Homo sapiens: one gene and its partners. The protein of the gene in region 1 purifies or fractionates together with the protein of each later gene. This does not show direct contact. Each region holds a gene or a part of one and is shown in the gene's direction. Other genes may lie near its edges.

Evidence for each region.
Region 2: the proteins of SLX4 (region 1) and CTR9 purify together in Homo sapiens (affinity purification with mass spectrometry, with the first as the bait; 2 studies listed by BioGRID). This does not show direct contact.
Region 3: the proteins of SLX4 (region 1) and KPNA1 purify together in Homo sapiens (co-immunoprecipitation; 3 studies listed by BioGRID and IntAct, with this or other methods). This does not show direct contact.
Region 4: the proteins of SLX4 (region 1) and ZNF687 purify together in Homo sapiens (affinity purification with mass spectrometry, with the first as the bait; 2 studies listed by BioGRID). This does not show direct contact.

The regions. Positions count from the first base shown.
Region 1 is NC_000016.10:3,580,681-3,584,143, reverse strand, and holds the end of SLX4 (structure-specific endonuclease subunit SLX4), read left to right. Parts: intron 1-633; coding exon 634-1,047; intron 1,048-1,450; coding exon 1,451-1,802; 3' UTR 1,803-2,963; downstream 2,964-3,463. UniProt on the Homo sapiens protein: Regulatory subunit that interacts with and increases the activity of different structure-specific endonucleases.
Region 2 is NC_000011.10:10,757,746-10,761,245, forward strand, and holds part of CTR9 (RNA polymerase-associated protein CTR9 homolog), read left to right. Parts: intron 1-2,427; coding exon 2,428-2,576; intron 2,577-3,500. UniProt on the Homo sapiens protein: Component of the PAF1 complex (PAF1C) which has multiple functions during transcription by RNA polymerase II and is implicated in regulation of development and maintenance of embryonic stem cell pluripotency.
Region 3 is NC_000003.12:122,448,940-122,452,439, reverse strand, and holds part of KPNA1 (importin subunit alpha-5), read left to right. Parts: intron 1-375; coding exon 376-464; intron 465-806; coding exon 807-906; intron 907-2,702; coding exon 2,703-2,866; intron 2,867-3,500. UniProt on the Homo sapiens protein: Functions in nuclear protein import as an adapter protein for nuclear receptor KPNB1. Binds specifically and directly to substrates containing either a simple or bipartite NLS motif.
Region 4 is NC_000001.11:151,288,799-151,292,298, forward strand, and holds the end of ZNF687 (zinc finger protein 687), read left to right. Parts: intron 1-296; coding exon 297-473; intron 474-579; coding exon 580-742; intron 743-879; coding exon 880-1,209; intron 1,210-1,323; coding exon 1,324-1,436; intron 1,437-1,633; coding exon 1,634-1,775; intron 1,776-1,916; coding exon 1,917-2,411; 3' UTR 2,412-3,378; downstream 3,379-3,500. UniProt on the Homo sapiens protein: May be involved in transcriptional regulation.

The DNA.
Region 1 (3,463 bases):
GCGGAGGCCTGATTTTTTTTAAAAGAACATTTAACTCTCACATCCACATGACACTGCTCTTCCACTCGGGCACCCGGGGAAGCTGCTGCTGCCACCATCCCTCAGAACTGGGAGCAGCATATCTTTTGTTTATTTTTTATTTTTGGAGACAGGATCTCACTCTGTTGCCCAGGCTGGAGTAGAGTGATGTGATCTTGGCTCACTGTAGCCTCAGCCTCCCGGGCTTAAGCGATCCTACCTCATCCTCCCTAGTAGCTGGGACTACAGGTGACACCACCACGCCTGGCTAATTTTTGTATTTTTTGTAGAGGCGGGGTCTTGCTATGTTGCCCAGGCTGGCCTTGAACTCCTGAGCTCAAACTGTCCTCCTGCCTCAGCCTCCCAAAGTGCTGGGATTGTAGGCGTGAGCCATTGTGCCTGGCTGGCAATGTTTCTTTTGGAATATTCAGAGTAAGCTTAGTTGGCGCCTAGAATAGACACTAACCTCTGATGCTCACAGAAGTCAGGCATCTATGGTTTGTCACACAAGCCATTCGCTGAATGCATTGGGTATCACTCTTTGCTAAGATAGGGAACGTGGAGTGTGGACCAGCTGTGTGGGTGGGTCCTGAGATCCACCTGTTCCTCCGTCAGGTTTGGAGTCCGCCCTCTGCCTAAACGCCAGATGGTTCTGAAGCTGAAGGAGATATTCCAGTACACTCACCAGACCCTGGACTCAGACTCCGAGGACGAGAGCCAGTCCTCACAGCCGCTGTTGCAGGCGCCTCACTGCCAGACCCTCGCCTCCCAGACCTACAAGCCTTCAAGGGCAGGGGTCCATGCCCAGCAGGAGGCCACCACAGGACCTGGGGCCCATAGGCCCAAGGGACCTGCTAAGACCAAGGGCCCCCGACATCAAAGGAAGCATCATGAAAGCATCACACCCCCAAGCAGGTCGCCCACCAAGGAGGCACCTCCAGGCCTCAATGATGACGCCCAGATCCCAGCCTCTCAAGAATCCGTGGCCACCTCTGTGGATGGCAGTGACAGCTCCTTGAGCTCACAGAGGTAACCGGATGGATGCGATGGGGTCAGTGGCCTCATGTATCCTCTGGCCCGTGGGCGTGAGGGTTGGCACGAGTGAGACCTAATGGCCAATCTTCAAAAACCCCCGTCACCTTCTGGGTTTGACCTGTGGGAAAACCAGGTGGGTTTAGGGGGCTGGTTCCCTGACCCCAGCCCTGCGCAGGCCTCCTGGTTCCTGCCCCACATGCTAGACATTTCTGGCTGGGGCAGGATCCCGCTGGCGTAGCCTGCAGGGATCTCTCAGGCCCGTCCTGCCTTGCTGGGGATCGTGCCACAGGCCAGGCTCCATGGGACCCGTAGACACCTTCCTTCCTTTAAAGAGGCTCATGGTCTCAGGGGCTGGAGAGAAAGGGGTTGCACAACGTCCTGGTCTGGCTCTTTTCAGTTCTTCCTCCTGTGAGTTTGGAGCGGCATTTGAGTCTGCAGGTGAAGAGGAGGGCGAGGGGGAGGTCAGTGCCTCGCAGGCAGCCGTGCAGGCGGCGGACACAGACGAGGCGCTGAGGTGCTACATCCGCTCCAAGCCGGCCCTGTACCAGAAGGTGCTGCTGTACCAGCCCTTTGAGCTGCGGGAGCTGCAGGCAGAGCTGAGGCAGAACGGCCTCCGTGTGTCCTCGCGCAGGCTGTTGGACTTCCTGGACACCCACTGTATCACCTTCACCACTGCCGCCACCCGCAGGGAGAAGCTCCAGGGCAGGAGGCGGCAGCCTCGGGGCAAGAAGAAGGTGGAGCGGAACTGATGGGGCCATCCCGACCCCACCCCAACCTGCCATCAGCAGCCCCCACCCCCGCCATTTGCAGGGAGGACCTGGGACACCCAGCGTGGGTCAGGCCTCCACAGGCATTTCTGGGCCTGGGGACCACATCAGCTCTGCGCTGTGATGATGACCACAGCCCAATCCAGGGCTTCCTCCTCTGGGCTCTGCTTTCTAGGGTGGCATTTGGAGCATGTCACCCACTGGATTTACAGACTCCAGCCCCTTCCTCTGTCCGTGCTCACAGTGTGTCTCCCTTTTTGGTTTTCTTTTTTTTTTTCTTTTTGAGACAGTCGTGCTGTGTCACCTAGGCTGGAGTGCAGTGGCACAATCTCGGCTCACTGCAACCTCCGCCTCCCGGGTTCAAGCAATTCTCCTGCCTCAGCCTCCCAGATAGCTGGGACTACAGGCACACGCTGCCACGCCCAGCTGATTTTTTATATTTTAGTAGAAACGGGGTTTCACCATGTTGCTCAGGCTGGTCACAAACTCCAGAGCTCAGGCAATCCGCCTGCTGCGGCCTCCCAAAGTGCTGGGATCACAGGCGCCAGCCACTGCGCCCGGCCCAGTGTGTCTCCCTTAACCCAAGAGGGCCCTCAGCTGTCCCAGGGGGCAGTGGGCCATCACCAGCTGGCCAGGGCATGGCCTATTCTGCCACATTTGCCACCCTCTGAGCCCACCAGTCCTGGGCACAGCTGCCCTACATGTCTGTCCTGAGATGGACGTCAGGTCCAGCCTGCCCCGGCAGCCCGGGCCCGTCCTCCTCAGCACTCAGGCCAACCCCAGCCACCGCCAGCCTGAGACCAGGTGTCCTGAGGCTCCCTGCACTGCCACAGCCCAGATGCAGTTCTCCTGACCCAGCCGTGCTACCCGGACACTTGTCATTGTTACCAGCAGTCTCCAAACTGGACAGTGCACAAGGGCCCAGAACAACTCTGATGCCACCACAAAACAAACATGTTCACTAGCGGATTCCATTCTTTGGGTTAAAGCTGCCTCCAGCCTCAGGAGCAGTGTGGAGGAAGATGAGGGCCAGGAAAGAAGGAAACCTTGGTTTCTCCATCCTTGTGAATGTCCTCGTCTGTTTCAAATACAGTGCAGTCAGTTTTATATGATGTGCAATAAACCAAAAAGGCTTTATTAAAATCTGGCTGCCACACTCCAGGGAGACCACGAGCGAAACGGGGGACCTGGAGGCACCGTGGCCCCTCAGCCCGTGCCCCACGCCTGCAGAAGTCCCCACCTTGCACCTGCCCTTTACTTTGGAGTAACCTGGGCCTGCTGTCTCCTCATTTCAGTTCCCAGACCAGAGATGCAGATGTTCATCCATTAATCCACACACCCGTATCCAACAGAGCCCTGGCTGGGTGCCAAGCTCCAGCCCCCGCACCTCAAAGTGGGGCCCAAGCACCCCCAGCTGCTGCCTCAGCCGGGAGTTGCTACAAAAGCAGATTCAGGCCCCACCCCACAACTCACCAAGACAGCACATGCCTTTACCATTGCGTCCGGTCCAGTGGAGGAGACAGACGCTGGCCTATCCCAGCCTGGTGGGGAGTCGGGCTCCAGTGGCTTGAAGGGCCGTGTCAGGGACAGCCTCCCAGAAGAGGGGTTTGTGAGCTGCATCTTAGGGCTCAGCAGCATTTAGG
Region 2 (3,500 bases), on another chromosome or scaffold:
CCTGCCCTCATGGAGTCCAGTTTTCAGTGGGCAAGATAAATAGTAAAGTATGTATGATGTGTAAGCTACCAGTAAGAGCCAAGGAGAAGAATAAAGCAGAAAAAGGGTATGAGAAGCATCAGGAATTGCTTAGAAAGGATGACCAAGGAAACTCATCAGAGATAGTGACATTTGTGTGAAGACCTAAAAAACAACTAGCAGCCATGCAGATATATAGGAGAAGACCACTCCTAGAGAGAGAGCATAGAAGGTACAAAGGTCCAGAGGAAAGAGAGTGCCTGGTAAGTTTAAGGAAGAGTAAGGAGGCCATTGTTTCTGGAATAGAGAGAGAAAGAGTTGGGGGGAAAGTAGTAAGAAATGGGGTCAAAGCTATAACCAGGGACTGACTAATCACGTAGGGCATCACAGATTATTGTAAGGACTTTAGTTTTTACATCGACAGAGATGGGAAGCCATTGGAGGGCCTTGGGCAGCAGAGTGACGTGATCTGACCTATATTTAAAAGGTTCGTTTGAGCTTTGGGGTTGAGACTAGAGTGGGGCTCAAGGGGAGGGGGTCAAGGACAGAAGTAGGGAGAGCAGGGAGAAGGCATCTGCAGACAGGCAGGTCAGAGGTGATTGTGGCTCACACTAGGGAGGTAATAGTGGAGTTGGTACAAGTGGTCAGATTCTACATGTATTTTGAAAGGAGAGCTGATGGAGTACCTATGATGTATAAGACAGAGAGGAAGAGTCAAAGATAACTCCCTTGCACAAGCAATTGGAAAAGTAGAGTTATATTTTACTATATTTGGGAAATAGTTTAAGTGGAACTAGTTTTAGACCTGAAAAGTTTGAAATACCTTTTAGACATATAAGTTGTCAAATTAAGCAGTTCAGCCTTAAAGCTTTTAGAGCTTTATCCTGAGCCTTGAGAAGAATGTGGCTATACAACCTGAGTCACGTGGCATGCAGTTGCAATTTCTGCCTTTTTTTTTCTGTAAACAATTAAGATCAAATGGTGCCAGAAATAAGATCCCCCTCACATGGAGCAATAAAATAATCTTTTTAGAATATAGCAATTTGTAACCAATCAAATTGCTGTGACATAGGCACCTGGTGTTATATTTTAGAATGTTACAATCCTACTAGAACTTCTCTATTTCCCCCAAATAATTAAAACCTTAACTTTTTCACTTTGGAAAATGCTGATATCATTCATTTGGAGTCAGTACTTTTCTGGTGGCCATTCTTACACCTTGCACTCCAATACACTCTATACTTAATCATATTTTCCAAATCCCGTTATTTAAAATTGACAAAGTGAAGACAGCAGAAAGGCTGGAATTCAGGAAAGAGGTCTGGGCTGAAGTCATCAACATATAGATAGTGTATAAAGCTGTGAATGAGTGCAAATAGAAAAGAGGTCTAGAGGTGGAGCCCTAGAGCACTCTGATATTAAGAGATTAGGGAAATGAGGAAGAATCAGCAAAGGAGACTGAGAAGATAATAGCCAGAGGTATAGGAGGAAAATAGGGTAAGTGCATTGTCTTTAAAGGCAAATGTAAAATGTTTCCAGAAGAAGATGATGACCAACAGTGTCAAATTCTGTTGTTAGGTCAAGTAAAATAGGGACACAGAATTGATCATTGGATTTAGCACCATACAAATCCATAGTGACCTTGATAAAAGCAGTTTTACTGGAATGGTGGGGTGAGAGCTTCACTGGAGTGTATTCAAGAGAAAATGGAAGGAAGGGAATTAGACATAGCAAGCGTAGCTAGATCATTCTGGGAGTTTTGCTATTGAAGAACAGACATGATCGACAACTGGAAAGGGATATAGAATCAAGAGAGGATTTGTATAAGATGGCAGAACGTTTATGTGTAGATGAGAATGAATGATCCAGTAGAGAGAAAAAATAGGGGAGGGTTGCTGGAGCAGTATTCTTAAATAGATAAGAGGGCATCTAGTGACCAGTATGGTGATTGGCTTTAGATGGGAACTTGTTTGTGTTTTGGCATGGCCTTAAATGAGGTAGCACATATGAGCATAGCTTTGAAAGGAACAATGGTATGTGCCCATAATCAGTCATATTATTTAAGGTCTTAGTGGAACTTTTGTTCTCTGTTTAAAAATTGTTCTTCAATAATGAGAAATTGAAGGTATGGTTAGCAGCGATGTTAGAAGACAAGAAGAATACCAGTATTATAGGTGTTCTGTTCTATAGTGAGAAATGTGTCAGTGATAGAGGAGAGGGTTGGAATATGGTATGATGTAGCCTCCAAGGAAACCAAGTTTGTGATAGGTCAAAAGATTCTGTAGTGTAGTTATACTGAGGTTAATTTTGGGGATTTTGCAACTCATAAATAGAGAATGTTTAAGCATTTTTGTAATTGAACTCTAAAAAATGCCCTAGTTTGATAGATTGAATGACTTCATTTTATAGCGGAAGTTCGTTTAGGAATGGGTCATTGCTTTGTGAAACTTAACAAACTGGAAAAAGCTCGTCTGGCATTCAGCAGAGCCCTGGAACTCAATTCCAAATGCGTGGGAGCATTGGTTGGACTGGCTGTTCTAGAACTCAACAATAAAGAGGTATGTAAATGAAAAAAGTATCTAGCTCCTAACTGCTTTGTCAGGCCCACAGCCTCTTATCTAAAACTCTTGGAGCCAGATGTGTCTTAGAAATTAAGATTACAGATTACAGAAGGGTACCTGTACTTTGTAATGTATAACACCTAGTTATTGGGGCACTACCCCAAAAGCAAACTTATATTTCTGTGGCAAAATGATAGACTGTTTACACTAGTAGGATAGGGTTACAATTCAGGTAGTATTGCCACCAAATAAGTTTGCTCCAAGATTACCAAAAAAAAAAAAACAGAAAACAAAACTTGTTTTTTAAGGCATTTAGATTTCAGAATCTCAGATAAGGGGTCGTAGACTTGTATATCAGTTTGGAATGCTTTCATTGCACGTAACAAAAAACACATCCCAGTGCCTTAAACATAAGGGCTTTTAGTGTTTACTAAACCAGTTGTCAAAGGTCTCAAATTTGATAGGTCCTTGTCGTCAAACCTATGATTTTATATAATTCCGTCCTCCCTTCCTTAATGTGCAGCCTTTCTTCATCATGTCTGTCACCTTATAGTCACAAGATGGCTGCAGCATCTCCAGCTTCTCATTATTACATCGGTCTTATAAAGAGGGAGGAAAGAGAAAGGATAAAAAGGCTTTCTCTTAGAGAAGCCCTGTCTTATATTGAGAAGGAAGCTCTCCATCATGCTTCCCCTTATGTATAATTGTCCAAAACAGGGATACCTGGGTTTCTCAGCCTCAGTACTATTGATGTTTTGGGCTGGATAATTCTTTGTTGTGGGGAACTGTCCCTTCCATTATAGAATGTTTTAACAGCATCCCGGGCCTCTACCCACTAAATGCCGATAGCGTTCCTCCAATTGTGATAACCAAACATGACTTCATCCCCAGTTGAGAACCACTACCTTAGGCCAGAGGAAA
Region 3 (3,500 bases), on another chromosome or scaffold:
CCTGTCAGGTTCAAGCAGTTCTCATGCCTCAGCCTCTCAAGCAGCTGGGATTACAGGCGCCTGCCACCACACCCGGCTAATTTTGTATTTTTAGTAGAGATGGAGTTTCACTGTGTTGCACTCCATACTGGGTGACAGAGCGAGATTCTGTATCAAAAAACAAAAACAAACAAAAATGAATTAGTTCTTTCCTTTAATAAACCGAATACCTTCTGTTTGTTGTACACTTTAGGATATTATTTATCTTCCTCCCCCAATCCTACAACTGTTTCATTTGACTCCCTGATGAACGTGTTATTGTGATATACTGGCATCTGAAAGAATTATGAGGGAATTAAACTATGTAACCTTTATTAATGAATGATTCTTTCACAGGCAGTCTGGGCTCTTGGCAACATTGCTGGAGATAGTACCATGTGCAGGGACTATGTCTTAGACTGCAATATCCTTCCCCCTCTTTTGCAGTAAGTTTCTTCTTCCTTCTTCCTTTTTTTTTCTTTTTGAGAATAAAAATGTAAGAGATTCCTCAGAAAGCATTACATGTTTGGAAATCATTTTGGATTTTCTAGTGTTATTTTTAATTCCAGATATTTTCTTGTTTAGATCATTTCCTCAAGCACCCTATCTTTTTCCATGCCAAAATTCTGAATTCTGAATTACTTGCATCAGAATTAATGAAGTTTTAATGTTCTGGAGAAAAGCTATCTGAAGACATCTCTTTATCAAAAGTATTATTATTTAGTATTTATGTCATCAGATAATCACTGTCTGTTACATAGTTTACCATTGTACCATCGTGCTTTTAGGTTATTTTCAAAGCAAAACCGCCTGACCATGACCCGGAATGCAGTATGGGCTTTGTCTAATCTCTGTAGAGGGAAAAGTCCACCTCCAGAATTTGCAAAGGTAAGGACTATGCTTTTGGGACATTGGCAGAAAAAATACAATTAAAAGAGTATTGCAACCAATGGTAAGGTGAACAGGAAGATAATTTTTGTTAAAATTTAAAATGTTAGAATTTTATCTGTTTTTGGAGAAACAGGGTTGTTGTTGTTTTTGTTGGTTCTCTTTATTATTTAAAAAGCAAATTTAGAGCATAGCTTGAAGGTGCACATTTACGATGGGACTGCAAATAAAGCATAGCATGAAGGAAGAATTTGTAAAGCTTATTGAAATTAGGCTTCATACAATTAGTATACTGTTTAGGAGACTATCCTTTCAGTTCTCTTAAAACAGTGGTTCTCAAAGTGTGGTCTGTGAGTTCTCTGGGAGTCCATGAGATTCTTTTTTTTTTTCCAATAGGTTTTTGGGGAACAGGTGGTGTTTAGGTACATGAGTTACTTGTTTAGTGGTGATTTCTGAGATTTTGGTGCACCCAACACCCAAGCAGTGTACGCTGTACCCAGTGTGTAGTCCTTTATCTCTCACCCACCTCCGACCCTTTCTCCCTGAGTCCCCAAAGTACATTGTATCATTCTTACGCTTTTGCGTCCTCATAGCTTAGCTCCCACTTATGAATGAGAACATCTGATGTTTGGTTTTCCAGTCCTGAGTGACTTTATCTACTTGTTGATTGATGGGCATTTGGGCTGGTTCCATGTGTTTGCAATTGTGAATTGTGCTGCTATAAACCTGCGTATACAAGTATCTTTTTCTTATAATGACCTCTTTTCCTCTGGGTAGATACCCAGGAATGGGACTGGTGCATCAAATGGTAGATATACTTTTAGTTCTTTAAGGAATCTCCACACTGTTTTCCATAGTGGTTATACTGGTTTACATTCCCAGCAACAGTGTAAAAGTGTTCCCTTTTCACCACATTCATGCCAACATCTATTTTTTGTTTTTTGGTTTTTTGAGACGGAGTTTTGCTCTTGTTGCCCAGGCTGAAGTGCAGTGGCGCGGTCTCGGCACACTGCAACCTCTGCCTCCTAGGTTCAAGTGATTCTCCTGCCTCAGCCTCCCGAGTAGCTGGGATTACAGGCGCATACCACCACACCCGGCTAATTTTTGTATTTTTAGTAGAGACGGGGTTTCACCATGTTGGCCAGGTTGGTCTTGAACTCCAGACCTCAGGTGATCCACCCACCTCAGCCTCCCAAAGTGCTGGGATTACAGGCGTGAGCCACCACGCCCAGCTGCATTTTTTAATATGTTTGTTGGCTATTTGTATATCTTCTTTTGAGAATTGTCTGTTCATGTCCTTAGCCCACTTTTTGATGGGATTTTTTTTTCTTGCTGATTTGAATTTCTTGCAGATTCTGGATATTAAAATAAATGGGTATTTTTGTAGTTGTTTTTAATTTGGAATCATTTTTCACTGAACAAAACCTTAGCATTTTTGGTCTTTAACAAAGTATCTAAAATACAGAATTTCCTAGTTTTCACATTTGTGAAAGTTCCTTTACCTGTTTAGTCCACAAAGAATGTGTTTTGATAGGGAGTCTTACTCCAAGAATTGATGTATATAAAACTTTGCTCTCTGAAATTATTTTCCTTGGGCTTTGACTACAGATTAGTGCAAGATCACTGACAACATTGCCAAAGATGGAAATGCCACTTAGGTACTTGCTGCTTCATCTTTAGAAGTGTAAATCACCCTAGAAGTCACCAAGTACATGCCTGGTTGCCTTCTTGAGTATCTCACCTCACTTCTGGCTTTTAGTCTATTGAATTTCATAATCATCATTTTCCTTTTACAGGTTTCTCCATGTCTGAATGTGCTTTCCTGGTTGCTGTTTGTCAGTGACACTGATGTACTGGCTGATGCCTGCTGGGCCCTCTCATATCTATCAGATGGACCCAATGATAAAATTCAAGCGGTCATCGATGCGGGAGTATGTAGGAGACTTGTGGAACTGCTGATGTAAGATATCTTTTAGAAAGTGTGTCCACTTTCTCTCCCTTGGTACTAGTTTTCTAGCTGCTAATACTTAAATATTAATGGATTGTACATGATAATTGATTTATTGTGCTTTGGGCTACTGTTTTTGTTACTTGTTTATTTTGATGTCAGATCTGTTTGTCTTGTTTTATTGAGGCTTATAGAGAACCTCTTAGTCCTCTGCTGTTAGCAGGCCTTTAGCAGAAACATTGGGAAAACTCTGATATGTGTAGTTCCAGGCTCATACTGGATGGCCTGAGATCAACCACCGGACATCAGAAGGCATACTGCCACTAAAATAGTCATTCCTTATCTGTCTGTCTCATTTAGAGCTTATTTTAGACAAGTATCAGAAATTCAATCTTATTTTGCTTTATCATCTCCGTGATGCTTTTGATAATGGAGTGGAAGATTTACTCGTGACATAAATAATTTGAGACTGTATTAATCAAATTTTTAGATACTACAGAAGAAAAAAATGAAAGTGATAACATAATGGAGAAATGGTACAGTTACAAGGTATGGGAGATTTAAAGTACAAAGTAGATGCAAAGAGACATTGTCGCAAACATGACATTTGGAATATATTAGATAGTTATAATGTATTAATACAAAA
Region 4 (3,500 bases), on another chromosome or scaffold:
TATATCCCTCAGCCCTGTTGTTTTGCCAGACTCAACCCTGAGATAGTACGTCCTGCCTTCCCGTCGTCCCCCATGGAGATGGGGGGAAGCAGGGCCACCTCTGGAGCTCCAGCTCTCCCTTGGCAGCCTCCCTTGGGGCACAGCCTCTGCACCTCTCTCCTTTCTCCACCCTGCTCATGCTCCACTACTGATTTCCTTCTTGTAGTCTACCCAGTCCCAGAGAATAAATGTATGGTCCCGGGGTGGGCATGGAGATGCCTCCCACCTCACCACAGGGCCTCCTGCTTCCTCCCTAGGTGCCCCAGCTGTTCAGTGGTGTTTGGGGGTGTGAACTCCATCAAGTCCCACATCCAGACGTCGCACTGCGAGGTTTTCCACAAGTGCCCCATCTGCCCCATGGCCTTCAAGTCTGGGCCAAGTGCCCATGCCCACCTCTACTCCCAGCATCCCAGCTTCCAAACTCAGCAGGCCAAGTGAGGCCCGGGGGAGGGCCGGGCTGGGCCAGGGAGGGCTGGTGGGGCGCAGGAGGGGAGGGGCTGCACCCAACCCTGCCTGATGTCTGCACTGTCCTCACTTCAGGCTGATCTACAAGTGCGCCATGTGCGACACAGTCTTCACTCACAAACCCCTCCTCTCCTCACACTTCGACCAGCACTTGCTGCCCCAGCGTGTCAGTGTCTTTAAGTGCCCGTCTTGTCCTCTGCTCTTTGCCCAAAAAAGGACCATGCTGGAACATCTCAAGGTACAGGAGCAGAGGGATGGGGAATGGGTGCTTAGCTGTACTGACCTGGGGCTGGGGCCACATACTTCAGAAGTGGGGGGCTTTGGCATAGCCAGGCCCTCCCCCACAACAGCAACCTCCCTTGTCTCCTCTCACAGAACACCCATCAGTCTGGGCGCTTGGAGGAGACTGCTGGGAAAGGGGCCGGGGGTGCCCTGCTGACCCCCAAGACTGAGCCTGAGGAGCTGGCTGTTTCTCAGGGAGGGGCAGCCCCTGCTACTGAGGAGTCGTCTTCATCTTCAGAAGAGGAGGAAGTACCCAGCTCCCCTGAGCCCCCCCGTCCAGCCAAACGGCCTCGGCGGGAACTAGGGAGCAAAGGCCTCAAGGGTGGGGGTGGGGGGCCTGGAGGCTGGACCTGTGGCCTGTGTCACTCCTGGTTCCCTGAGCGTGATGAATACGTGGCCCACATGAAGAAGGAGCATGGCAAGGTGAGTGGGCCCCAAGGGGAGTACCATGGGCTGGGGGCAGCATTGGGACTGCCAGTGTGACAGTGGGGACGGGGTCCTGGAGCCTGGCTCTGACATCTACCCCTGCTCTCCTAGTCAGTGAAAAAGTTCCCCTGTCGCCTGTGTGAGCGCTCCTTCTGCTCCGCCCCCAGCCTGAGGCGCCATGTCAGAGTTAATCACGAGGGCATCAAGCGAGTTTACCCCTGCAGGTAAGTCTTGCTCCCCGCTTCCTCTTCCTGCCCAGCACGTGACTCTCCCTGTATGCCAAAGTACCTGTGCACCTGCGACGTGTCTAAGTGGCCTGATGGTTGGGGTCTCCCTCTGCTCTGGCAGCCCCCTCCTCAGAAGCAAGGGCCCTGGCCTTCGGGCTGTGCCGCTGCTGCCATCCTGTCCTCTCCCATTTCAGGTATTGCACAGAGGGAAAACGCACCTTCAGCAGCCGCCTGATCCTAGAGAAACATGTCCAGGTCCGGCACGGCTTGCAGCTTGGGGCCCAGTCCCCTGGCCGGGGGACCACCTTGGCTCGGGGTTCCAGTGCCAGAGCCCAGGTAGGCAGAGGCCCGGCCTGCTGTGCTAGGGCTTTGAGTGGGAAACTGGAAGGCAGAGACCATGGCCTCAGGAAGCGAGCATGGGGGTGCCAGGGACAGTAGGGGTGGTGGTAAGGCCCAGTTTCTTCCACTTTTCTTCAGGGGCCAGGTCGGAAACGCCGCCAGTCTTCTGACTCTTGCAGTGAGGAGCCTGACAGCACGACACCGCCAGCCAAGTCCCCCAGGGGCGGACCTGGATCTGGAGGCCATGGCCCTCTGCGCTACCGGAGCAGCAGCTCCACAGAACAGAGCCTCATGATGGGGTTGAGGGTGGAGGATGGTGCCCAGCAGTGCCTCGACTGTGGCTTGTGCTTTGCCTCCCCTGGCTCCCTGAGCCGACACCGTTTCATCAGCCACAAGAAGAGACGGGGTGTGGGTAAAGCCAGTGCCCTGGGGCTGGGGGATGGGGAGGAAGAGGCCCCTCCATCAAGGTCTGACCCCGATGGTGGAGACTCACCCCTGCCTGCTTCTGGAGGCCCACTGACCTGTAAGGTCTGTGGCAAGAGCTGCGACAGCCCTCTAAACCTCAAGACCCACTTCCGCACGCATGGCATGGCGTTCATCAGGGCTCGGCAGGGGGCTGTTGGGGACAACTAGTCTCCAAGGCCTGGGACTGACCAGCCCCTTCCTCTTGGAGCCTGGTTTTCCCTACTGCTGCCTGATCCCTCGGCTGGGGAGTTTTCATTAACATTAATATTTTGTTAATTCCTGTCTCTCCAACCTGAAGAAGAAGAGCATTTGAGGATTATTCTAGTTATTTGCAACCTCCCTTTGGGTTTGGCCCTGGAGTCCTAGTAGAGTGGACCCTCCATTCCTCCTTTCTGAGCCCAACACTAATTAATTTTATGCTCCTGCTGCAGAACCCCCAGTGTGGGCCTGGGGGTGGGAGGATGGGACTTAGGTATGCCTGCTAGACAGGTTCAGGGAAGGACTGATGGGGGTGTCATGGATGGACACACCTCTCCACAATTCCTTCAGGCATGGACTGGAACTTTCCTCCTCTAGGCCGGGCCCTGCCCTAGTGCCCACCCCCGCCCCCGCCCCCGCCCAACCCCAACTCACTGGCACTCAAGCCCCCTACCCCTGCAGTGCCTTTCACTTCTTTTTTTCCCCAGAAATCCGGGGCGGGGGGGTGGGGGGTTGGTAGGGATGAGTCCTGTCAAGGGGGCCACAGGAGAGGAGGGGACAGGCTCTCAGGAATCCTTTATTCTTGTAGTAATAATAATACTAACAAACAGTTGGGGAACTAGGGAGAAAACCAGACCATTAAAACTGTTTGTGGTCGAATCTCCATTCAGGCCTCTCTTTTTCTGTGACTTGGACAATGTGGAGTTGAAGCGGGTGAGAGAACATGGAAGGCCCGCCCTTCTCAGGGAAGAGGTGGTAGTGACCAAGACAGGCAGGGAAAAAGCAAACTTCTATGTAGTGCCTTTTGTATCTTGGACACTGAGGCATCCGTTCATACCTCATCACCCATCTCCCCCTGCACTCCCCCAGAAAACCTGGAAATGACACAAGTGGCTAACTAAGGACTTTATTTCAAACAAAAATTAAAAATAAAAAATTGAGAGCTCTTTTCCCTGGGTTTGGGGAAGGAGTCAGGGTAGGGAATTCCACATGGCTAGGCCAGTACCCTCAGTACACTGGAGGGCTGTGGGAATTCCCTTCCTTGCCCATGATGGGGAA